Linked DNA regions of Homo sapiens: region 2 is reported to be linked to region 1. The links are microRNA targets in miRTarBase. Many come from high-throughput screens and were not tested one by one. Region 1 holds a microRNA gene; the other region holds the end of a gene's coding sequence.
Evidence for each region. The annotated mature microRNA hsa-miR-5007-5p reads UAGAGUCUGGCUGAUAUGGUUU and lies in region 1 at 1,783-1,804, opposite strand. An mRNA with a match to its seed (bases 2 to 7 or 8) in the 3' UTR can be bound and repressed. Matches are read on the target gene's strand: a 7mer-m8 pairs with bases 2 to 8, a 7mer-A1 pairs with bases 2 to 7 and ends in A, and an 8mer does both.

Region 1 (5,385 bases):
ATTAAAATGAAGTCTTATAAGTGTATTGTAATCTAATCACTGCAGAGATACCCCAGCACGTTTTGTCATATTCCATTAAATGCAAGTTCCAGTTTTGCCCACATTCAAGGGTATGGTATTATACAATAGGTGACTTCCTGGGGGTTACACTAGAGTGTGTCCACCCACAGCTCAGATTGACTCACATATGTTTATATTTGAAAGGTTGCAATACTAAGGTTGTTTCTGGTATCATAGAATACTTAATAGCATTTACTCAGTATGACTCTTTCAATATCCCTTGAGTAAGTTACTAGTGAGTACTATAAATCTCCAAACCACATAACGTAAAGGAGTGCTCAGAATAGTAAATTACACATAGTAAATATGTAATAAATGTAATGTGTCAACATTATTATTATTTGTATGATTACTGATATATGCATTGGGTTTGAAGATCAGTGTGATAAGCCATACTTGAGTTTCAATGGGACCTGCAATAGATGCACTACAACAGAACAAATAATATGATTGGAGTGACAGAAAAATTAACAACCAAAGATAGATCAAAATCTGAGCTTCCTGATGAACTAGAAACATTGTGAATGCTTAGGTTTCTTGTAATTCTGTAGACTCTCAAACAGTGCTTGTTTGTTTAATTAGTTAATGCAGACTTGGTAGGTGGACTGGAAATGTAGTGACAATGAGTAAAAGATGGGTTTTTAGAGAAACATGTAGGCGGCATTGGGTATGTCTTTGGGATATGTCTATAGTAGGTGAAATTTTGCATCTTTTCTACAGACACTAGCGGAACCAGGAGAGAAGATAATTTCCCTATTATAGCTGATGTCAGCTTACTATTATAAGTAGAAAGGCATGACTCAAAGATAGACTAGTAGAAGAGGGGTATCTCATTAATTATGTCCCCAATAGCTATAATCACTCCTACTTAAAATTTTTTATCCTAACATTACTTTTTTTCTAAGAAGAAATGTTGATAGGCTGTGAAAATAAGACGATCACAAGAAAAAAATAACTCAAACCATCAAATTTACTGTCTTATTTAATGTCTAGCAATTCTTGCCATTTTCAGGGATTCTCTCCTACTCTGCCTTTTACATTGAAGAATATTTATTCTACGTTGTTAGTTCTTGGCTACTGAGCTTTTAGTTTTGACCATATTTATTCGTCGAATCATTAGTTATCACTGGGGTAGTAAGACTGGATATTATATAAACAGTGAAGAGACATCCCTAACAAATATGCTTGTAGAACTGGGGATAGTTAATTATCAGCAGGTTACAAGTGAGCTTAGTCTTTGAAGAATAAATGAAGAAACAAAAGTGAAAACATTGAGGAAAGCATTCCAGAAAGATGAATACAAATGTGCAAAACTTTGGAAACATGAAAATGCATGATGTTTTATAAAGAGAATTTTAGAAGAAGCTTTATGTCTGGAAGGTAAATGAGTTTTGAAGATTTGGCAGCCATGTGAGGCTAAAGGGAGAATCTGGGGCCAAAATATTAACAACTTGGGGGAGCTGAAAGTTTGCAAATATAGAAGTGACGAAGATCTACATTTTACAGACATCTCAGGAGATGAATTTAGGGTTGGTTTTAAATGACAAGAGTTCATTTAGAAAGATGGTACAGTAATACAGGTGAAAAAAATAAAAATTTAATTAAAAGAAGCATTCATCAGTATAAGAAAGAGAAGGCTGATTTGGAAGATATTTGAGGGATAATTTTTAACAGAAATTATTGACTAATTAGAGTTTGGTTCATATGATTTAGCTCTGTGTCAAACCATATCAGCCAGACTCTAATTAGTCACCAAGGTTTACCAAATCTCATGTCAAATTGTAATCCCCAGTCTTAGAGAGGGGTGTCCATTGGGAAGTGACTGGATCATGAGGGTAGAGTTCTCAAAAATGGTTAGGCACCACTGCCTCAGTGCCGTTCTCTGATAGTGAGTCAGTTATCACAAAGTCTGGTTGTTTTAAAAGTGTGTGGCACCACTCCCCTCTCTCTCTTCCTTCTGCTTCAGCCATGTGAAGTGCTGACTCCTTGTTTGCCACCCACCATGGTTGTAAATTTCCTAAGGACTCCCTAGAAACCAAGCAGATGCTGTCATACTTCCTACATACAACCTTCACAACCATAAGCCAATTAAATCTCTTTTTTTTAATAAATTACCCAGTCTCAGGCATTTTTTTATAGCAATGTGAGAATGAACTAATACACTGGCTAAAGAAGCAACATTTACCTCAAACTGCACTGCCCAATAAGATATTCTTGAGCCCGATGTGGTTATCCACTTTTACTTTATATTGATTAATAGGTAAATTTAATTCCTGAGCTGGCATGAAGGAATCCTGAGTCTCAGCAACTCAGGAGATTGAGGCAAGAATTTGAGACCCCCATCTCTAAAACAAAAAATTATATCTCAGTAGAAATAGTCAATTTTAAGTACTCAATAGCTTCATGTGGCTTGTGGCTACCATATTGGAAAGCACAAATAAACAAGATTTTCTTCCTTATTGAACGATCTATTGGACAGCAGTAATATAGAGTCAATTCCTGGTATCCTTTGTGTTTATCAGAAGAAACTTATGAAAAAATCCAATTGGGAAATAACATAATGAGATAAGTCATAAATTTATTATGTTTGCATTAAATGTGGGTATACAATTGTTTTCCACCACTCTTCTGCTTTTACCAATAATGCATCAAGAATATCTGTGTTCTTATAGCTTTCTATTGAGATGCAAAATTGTAGGCAAAATTCCTAAGTGATTATTTATTATCTGCAAGAACATGTAATATTTAAAACAAATAATGATTGCAAAGTTCTCCTCTAATTTATATTATCTAGTTAAATGAGAAATCTTATTTCCCATGCAATAGCTTACAAAACTATATAATACAAAAAATAGAGATTTTCCAATCCAATCTCAGTGTAAAATTGCATATTTTACTTCATATGTATCTGACAAGTGATTCTAAATATTATTACATCTTTATAAGCAATTTGTATAGTTTTTTAGGTCTGACTTTATTATATTTTAAGCTTCTTTACTCCATTGGTATTGATTTGTATGGCATTTTTATACATTTAGAATATAAAATTAATCACAAAGTTGTCTTATAAGTTAAAAATCCCATTTCCCCATTATTTATTTCTTCATTTACTTTGTTTATGATGTAAGTGTAGCCCCTTTAAAATGTTGTTAAATATATCAATATTTCCTTTATGATTTGTGGAATATAACTCTTATTTATGTATAAGATCACTCTTGCCTTCTAGTATCTTGATAGTTCTTATGTTAAAGTATGAATATTTGATCTCCCATTTATTTTTCTATAAATTTATTTTAACCTACTAAGTGGTAGAACATTAAAAAATTGTAGCTATATACAATTGTATGAAAAAAAGAAAAGCACTAAGATTTCTTTGTTTTGTTTTTGTTGTTGTTAAGTGGCAAAAAGTGGCTAAAAAATCCCCTAGACTTTGTATGTTTGCATGCAAAGGATAAGCAGTAGAAATCTAATGTTTATAATAAAATATTGGAATGATTCCAAATAAATTAAAGAAAAAGTAAGTAATATTTTTCTCAATACTATACTCAGGCATTACAATAAGTCAAAAACAGAATAATTTAAGTTTATTTTTTTTAAAAAAAGCAAAATATTCATGCTTTTAAATTTGTGGAAGACCTTATAAAAATAATAACCTAAAAGAATTAACTGATACAATGTTGACAATTGGATTAATGTGATTGAAACTTATAGAGAAATTAAAAGATAAACTTGGCTTTAAGCTGTTGGAAAAATACATAGTTTATATGACAGAAATAAAACCAAGAATAGTATGTTAGAAAATTACGGAATCAAGGTTGCTTATATAATCTGTTCCTTAAGAATAAGTATCAATTAATAACTATTAAGGAAATAGAAACTGCATTGGCAATACCAGCATATCCTGAAGAACAAACTGTAAAACAGACTGAAGTGTTTTATTTCTAGTCAACTAGTTGAATGAAACTCCCATAAAGCCGTAGGTGTGAATGGTTGGAAGGGAAGCAATGCAGAAAGAAGCAGTGTCAAAAGACACTCTATCCCCTAGCCCTGCCCAAACTCATTTTCTTACATATCATTTTTACTCAATGATAGATTGGTGCTGCACATATCCAACTTTATTAATAGATGCGTTTGACTTGGAAAATGCAGACTGTATGGTCACCTGATGTCATCTTCAGTTTGTTCTCTTCTAAGGGCTAATAGTAAGTCAGAAGCTAATTCTCAAGAAGTAGGAAATTTACTTTCAGAAGAGAACATTGATTTACTCCAAAATCCTAGAAGTTGTCCTTGTGGTTCTTCTATTAGTGTCTATCAGAATGGCCTATAAAGCATCTCTATTTACCACAGATACTTTGAATATCAATGGATTTACTGAATCATTAGGCCATGGAGAAGAGCATCTTGTACTTTGGCCTGTATTTATTGAAAAGTCACCTCTTACTATATAGCTCTCAAAGATATAGGCAGCCTTAATATATGATTTGGTAAATATGCTGAAGAAGCACTCTCAACTGTGGTATGTTGTCTCCAAAATCTTGAAAACCCTGCCATGCATTGAGCTTTTACATTTTTTTTGTGACAGTGCAAAATGAAAAAATATATTTGCTACCTTCGAGGCAAGTATAGACATATTCCAGACATTTGAAACCACGAAACTTTAATGAAGAGGTGGATCCATGCATTTTTGTGGAATTACTGCCCAGATTCTGGCTAGAATTTACCTTACGAAACTATGTCATAGTAATTGCTACCTCTTACACATCAGATTCAATAAACTCAATGTCATCAATGTAGTGGACAAGACTGGGGCTTTGTGGAATGTCATGATGATCAAACTCTCTGCAAATCAGATCATATCTAGAAGAAAAAAAAATGATACAACCCTGAAACAAGGCTCTGAAGGTTTACTGTTAGCACAGCTAGGTAAAAGCAACTGACTTCTGAGGATCTTTACAGTATGGAGAAGAAAAGCATTAGCCATATCAGTAGGAGTTTATCAAGTGTTCAATGATGTATTTCATCATCCTGGTAATAAGTACAGTACTTAATAGGTAATTTTTCAATCATCACCCTCCTCCAACCCTCTACTCTCAAGTAGGCTCTGATGTCTATTGTTCTCTTCTTTGTGTCCCTGTGCACTCAATGCATATTCCTGCTATATAAGAGAGACACGTGGTATTTGGTTTTCTGTTCTTGCATTAGTTCACTTAAGTTAATGGCCTCCAGCTTTATCCACGTTGCTGCAAAGGACATGGTCTTGTTCCTTTTCATGTCTGCATAGTATTCCGTGGTATATGTATCCTATTTTCCTTATCCATTCTACCA
Region 2 (5,385 bases), not on the chromosome of region 1:
AAAAATTAGCCAGGCGTGGTGGCGGGTGCCTGTGGTCCCAGTTACTGGGGCGGCTGAGGCAGGAGAATGGCGTGAACCTGTGAGGTGGAGCTTGCAGTGAGCCAAGATTGGGCCACTGCACTCCAGCCTGGGCAAGAAAGCGAGACTCTCAAAAAAAAAACCACTAGTCTGGGCGCGGTGGCTCCTGCCTGTAATCCCAACACTTTGGGAGGCCAAGGTGGGTGGATCACCTGAGGTCAGGAGTTCGAGACCAGCCTGGCCAACATGGTGAAACCCCATCTCTACTAAAAATACAAAAATTAGGTCAGGCATGGTGGCTCACGCCTGTAATCCCAGCACTTTGGGAGACTGAAGCAGGCGGATCATGAGGTCAAGAGATGGAGACCATCCTGGCCAACATGGTGAAACCCTGTCTCTACTAAAAATACAAAAATGGCTGGGCACGGTGGCTCATGCCTGTAATCCCAGCACTTTGGGAGGCCGAGGTGGGTGGATCACGTTAGGTCGGGAGTTCAAGACTAGCCTGACCAACATGGAGAAACCCCATCTCTACTAAAAATACAAAATTAGCTGGGCATGGTGGCACATGGCTGTAATCCCAGCTACTTCAGGAAGCTGAGGCAGGAGAATCACTTGAACCCAGGAGGTGAGGTTGCCGTGAGCCGAGATCGCGCCAGTGCACTCCAGCCTGGGCAATAAGAGTGAAACTCCGTCTCAAAAAAAAAAAAAACACTAAAATTAGCTGTGCATGGTGGCGCGCGCCTGTAGTCCCAGCTACTCAGGAGACTGAGGCAGGAGAATCGCTTGAACCCAGGAGGCAGAGGTTGCAGTGAGCCGAGATGGTGCCACTGCACTCCAGCCTGAATGACAGAGTGAAACTCCGTCTCAAAAAAAAAAAAAAAAAAAAAAAAAAAACACAGAAACTCTGGCAGCCATCACAGTGTGATTATTTGTTTATTTCATTAAATGTTTAACGAGGCTACATTGTTTCCCAAACCAATGTCTAATTTGTGAAGGAAACAGCGCAGAGAAGGAAGCTGGGTGACTCCTGCATCTGGGGTGGGGAAGGGAGTAAGGTCCCCTCCCTCCATCCTACAGAGGCCTTTGAGGATCAGCAACAGTCCCATTCCCTCCTCCCACCCACTGAGCTCCTCAGCCCAGAGCCCTCCTCCCCAGAAATAAAACGTCTGGCAACCCAGACCTGCAGAAAGGGACCAAAAATCCATTCCTGGTGGTATTGAAAATGTATTAAACTTTGGGGGGTCCTCCAGCTGATTGATTTTTCTAATTATGTTTGCTTTAGATGGATATTTAAATGCATTTGCATTCCCTGAGCTCACATGGCAGGATATGGAGGTTGGAGGAAAGAGGGGGCACAAACACTCCACACTCTGCACTTTGGTGGTTGCAGGCTTGAACCTGCTATACACTGAGAAGTCCAAAGTGGAAAAGAGAAGCCACTCAGCTAAAAATCGCAAGTCGATTTTTATGGCAGGTCCTTGTGGGGAAAGGGTCAGTCCTCAGAGACAGATGGAGATCCACCTAGCTGGGCCTGGAGCCCCTGCCCTCTCCTGTACCCTTAGCCGAGGACTCAGGGTCTTTGAGTCAGTCCCTAACCAGGTCTCAGTTTGAGGGGGTGGTTATCCAAGCACACTTAGATAATTTCAAATGCCATTGAAGTTATCCTAGAATCTTTGAGACTGGCTGAGATGAACTAGTCCCATAGGAGAGGTTGGGATAGGGATATCTGATGATCCAGGGAGTGGTGGGTAGGGATTCCTTTCCTCTCAAGACTGGAACCTGGCATAAGGGAAAGGAGAAGCTATTTTTTATTTTTTATTTTTTAATTTTTTTTAGAGACAGGGTCTCACTCTGACACTCAGGCTGGAAGACAATGGCATGATCATAGCTCACTGCAGTCTCTAACTCCTGGCCTCAAGCGATCCTCCCAGCTTGGCCTCCCAAAGGAGGAATCTTGGCTGGGATTATAGGTGTGAGCCACTGCCGAGAAGCTATTATTTTAAATGACACACCTCAGAGCCAAATCTCCCAGCTCCAACACCACATCCAGATAACCATCTATCCAAAAAACAACTCTGATCACTTCACTCTCTGCCTGAAATTCCTGGTGGCTTCATCCTCTGAGGATGATTTCATTCATCCTCAGAATGAAATTCTGATTCCTCTGTGGACCCTGCAGTAGCCTCAGTGTACCTTCCTAGCCTTGTCTTCTATTCTCCCTGCCATGGGAGCCCCAACAGTGCTATGCTCATTCTCATCTCCACGTGTTTACACATGCTGTACCCTCTGCCCAGAGTGCCTTTCCTACCCCTTCCCTGCCCGGAAAACTCCTCTTCAACCCTCAGGACCTGGCTCACAGGACTGGCTTCTCAGGCTGCAAGGAGCTCCCATAGCATCCCATACATGTACAAATATCCCTCAGCCATGGCACCCTCACACCTGAGGTACCTCTCTTCCACACTGGGCTGGCCTCCAAAAGCTTAGAGACTGGTCCTTGCAATCTCCCAAGCCAGTGTATGCCACACAGTTGGTGTTCAGTACATACTTGCTGAATGAATGAATGAGGGAGGAATGGGCTATAAATTTGGGTGGGATCCCAGCAGATAGTTGGGTAAGGTCAGTGTTCTCTTCCAGTGTGTCTGGGAGAACTGGCTAGGGCTGGGGGAGGGAAGGGCCAGGGATGGTTCCTGGGGGAGAATGTCACCGAAAAGAGGCCAGTGGGACCAGAGCCAGGAAGGGAATACAGGACAATCTGAAACCAGACTCCCGAGAAAACAGACCAGTACTGTCTTTCCTGACAACAGGCGCTCAGCCGTCCTCTCCACCGTCTTTCCTTTAAGGGACAGGGTAGGGGTGACTCTAACAGCTGATGCTCCCCTGAAAGCCATCATGAAACTCAGCATGGGAGGAGAGAAAGGTCCCTGGCCTGAGCCTCTAAGGAGACCCCAGAATCAAACTACTGACCTCTTAGGAAACTTCACGCTGTACAGGGGTAGCTTCTGTGATGTGGAGGCTTTTGATGCCTTCTTTTTTTTTTTTTTTTTTTTTTTTGGAGACAGAGTCTTGCTCTGTCATCCAGGCTAGAATGCAGTGGCGCAATCTCGGCTCACTGCAAGCTCCGCCTCCCAGGTTCACCCGGGTTCACACCATTCTCCTGCCTCAGCCTCCCGAGCAGCTGGGACTACAGGCACTGCCACCGCGCCTGGCTAATTTTTTGTATTTTTAGTAGAGATGGGGTTTCACCGTGTTAGCCAGGATGGTCTCGATCTCCTGAACTTGTGATCCGCCCACCTCGGCCTCCCAAAGTGCTGGGATTACAGGCGTGAGCCAGCGCGCCCGGCCTGATGCCTCCTTATCCCCACAACCCCCAGGGTACCAGCAGGCTCCAAGCCAGGGGTACAGATGGTGAGCAGGACCCCTCCCACACTAGCAGCAGGCCTGGCTGGGCTGAGAAATGCTGACTAATTATATGTCGGTCTGCTCTAAAACCCCCTAATGGCCTGAGAATTGCCCACTTCATTAACTAGGATGAACAGTCCCAGGATGTCTCCTTCTCCCAACTCTGACTCCTAAAAGGACACTTCTGATCCAACCTATGGCTTTGTCCTCTGCTCTATCTGTGGACATGGACAGGAAAGTTCCCCAGCTGAGGTCTAACTTTCCCTCTTACTGCTAAAGATTGGTAGATTGATTTTTTTAAAAAGCAACAAAACTAAAGCCACAGCCGTTTTCCATGGAGGTGGGCTTTATTAGGTGACTGTTGAGGCAAGGGAGGTTCTAGGGCTGGTGGACTGATGGGGGGCAAGGGCTTCTCCTTGCTTTTGAATTTAGTGCATGTTGCCTAGAGGTTAGATGTGTGAGAATAGCTGCAGAAGTGAGAGGAGAGGAAAAGAGAAGGTCATAGAATGGACATTTTCCTTGGGCCAGAACCAGGATATGGGGACTGGGGGTGGAGAGGGAGGGTACTCTTCACATAGGAGACTCCACCAAGGTCACCATTTGATACCAGCTTCCCTAACGCCCACCTGCCCCATCCCAGTTCATGCCCCAGATGCCAGCCCTGTTAGCTCCCTCAACATCCACTGGAGAAGAGGAGGGAGGAGGAGATGAGAAACGATGATACCCTTCTGCCCTCCAGCTCCCCTGCCCAGAATTGCTCGCTCTGCCTGCCCTAACTTCCCAGCCAGGATCAGGAGGTCAGGAAGCCTGGGCGCAGGCAGGGGAACAATTGTGTCCCTCACCACCCCTCTTCACACTCTGCCCTCTCCTAGCCCCTCACATGAGGTTGCAGCTTTTGGCTCGATCCTTGTGTATCTCGCCCTCATTCCCCCGGTCTGGCCGTCCTGACAGCTGAGCGGATCGCTGCATTCCCCGGCGTGAGTCAGTTCGGCGCAGCTGCCTATGGCCACGGCCAAGGGAGGCCACTGTAGCCACATGGAAGACATCCCTGACGCTGCGCTCAGAGGACCGGGAGGAGCACTCAACATAGGACACAGCCCCCACCTGCTTGGCCAGCACAGTGCCCTGGAAAAGGAAGGAGTGCATGGGAGAAAGTTATAGGTCTTAGCCTGCAGCTTAGAAAGGGGCATGGAGGCTGTGGGCTGGGGTTGAATGTCAAGGCTGGGGGCAGTCAAGGGATCAGGTCAGAGGTCACAGACCAGAACAAAGGATGAGCCAGGTAAGGTGTTTTCAAATCAGAGACTGAAGGGGCAGAGGTGACAGGTCTAGGCTGGGATGAGGTCAGACGTCAAGGGTCCCACCTGCTCATGTGTAACAGGGATAAGCCTCTGCTTGGACAGCTCCCTCAGTGTGGCCAGGTCAGTCCGCATGTCCAGTTTACAGCCAACCAGCACAACCTTGGCATTGGGGCAGAACTCTTGAGTCTCTCCTTGCCACTATGTAGGAGAAGAAAAGAGAATTGTGGAGGGGTGGAGGGAGGCACAGCGTGAGCCTTTGTGCCATGCCAGCAGTGTGCCCTCTCTTCCTCAAGCACGCAGAAACCATGTATCCCTCAGGACTCTCCCACATGAGGAAGGAGGTGAGAATGCTAGGCTTGGTTTGAGAGCAGGATGGGGTGAGAGAGAAGCAGCGGGGAGGAGAGGGCTGGCGTGGGCCTGTGGACTCTTCTCCCTCAGTGGCTATGAAGGGTCTGCCAGCCTGGAAACTTCCCATTCCCACTCGCCTTTCCCATACTCTCTCCTGGGAACAAATTTATCCCACCCTCCCCTCCCCCACCTGGGAACTGGGGCTGCCCTAGCTGACTTCTGTCCATTCACCCCTGGCTTTTGTCATGGAAACTGGGGCCTGGAGAGGAGGCCACAGGGCTTTCCTGAGCTCCAGGATCAGGCTTCCCATCCCATCCCC

Region 2: miRTarBase lists RND2 as a target of hsa-miR-5007-5p. Seed matches in the 3' UTR shown: 7mer-m8 at 3,079-3,085.

Annotation. Positions count from the first base shown.
Region 1 is chr13:55,170,893-55,176,277 of GRCh38, reverse strand. MIR5007 (microRNA 5007) reads right to left here and starts at 1,824; the gene lies at 1,730-1,824. All of the region lies in intron 4 of LINC02335 (long intergenic non-protein coding RNA 2335), which reads right to left.
Region 2 is chr17:43,027,592-43,032,976 of GRCh38, reverse strand. It overlaps RND2 (Rho family GTPase 2), which reads right to left. Exons shown (of 5, transcript NM_005440.5): 4 at 4,782-4,916; 5 at 936-4,545. The coding sequence ends at 4,297. Among named protein-coding and RNA genes, the nearest start is that of RND2, 5.1 kb to the right of the region's middle.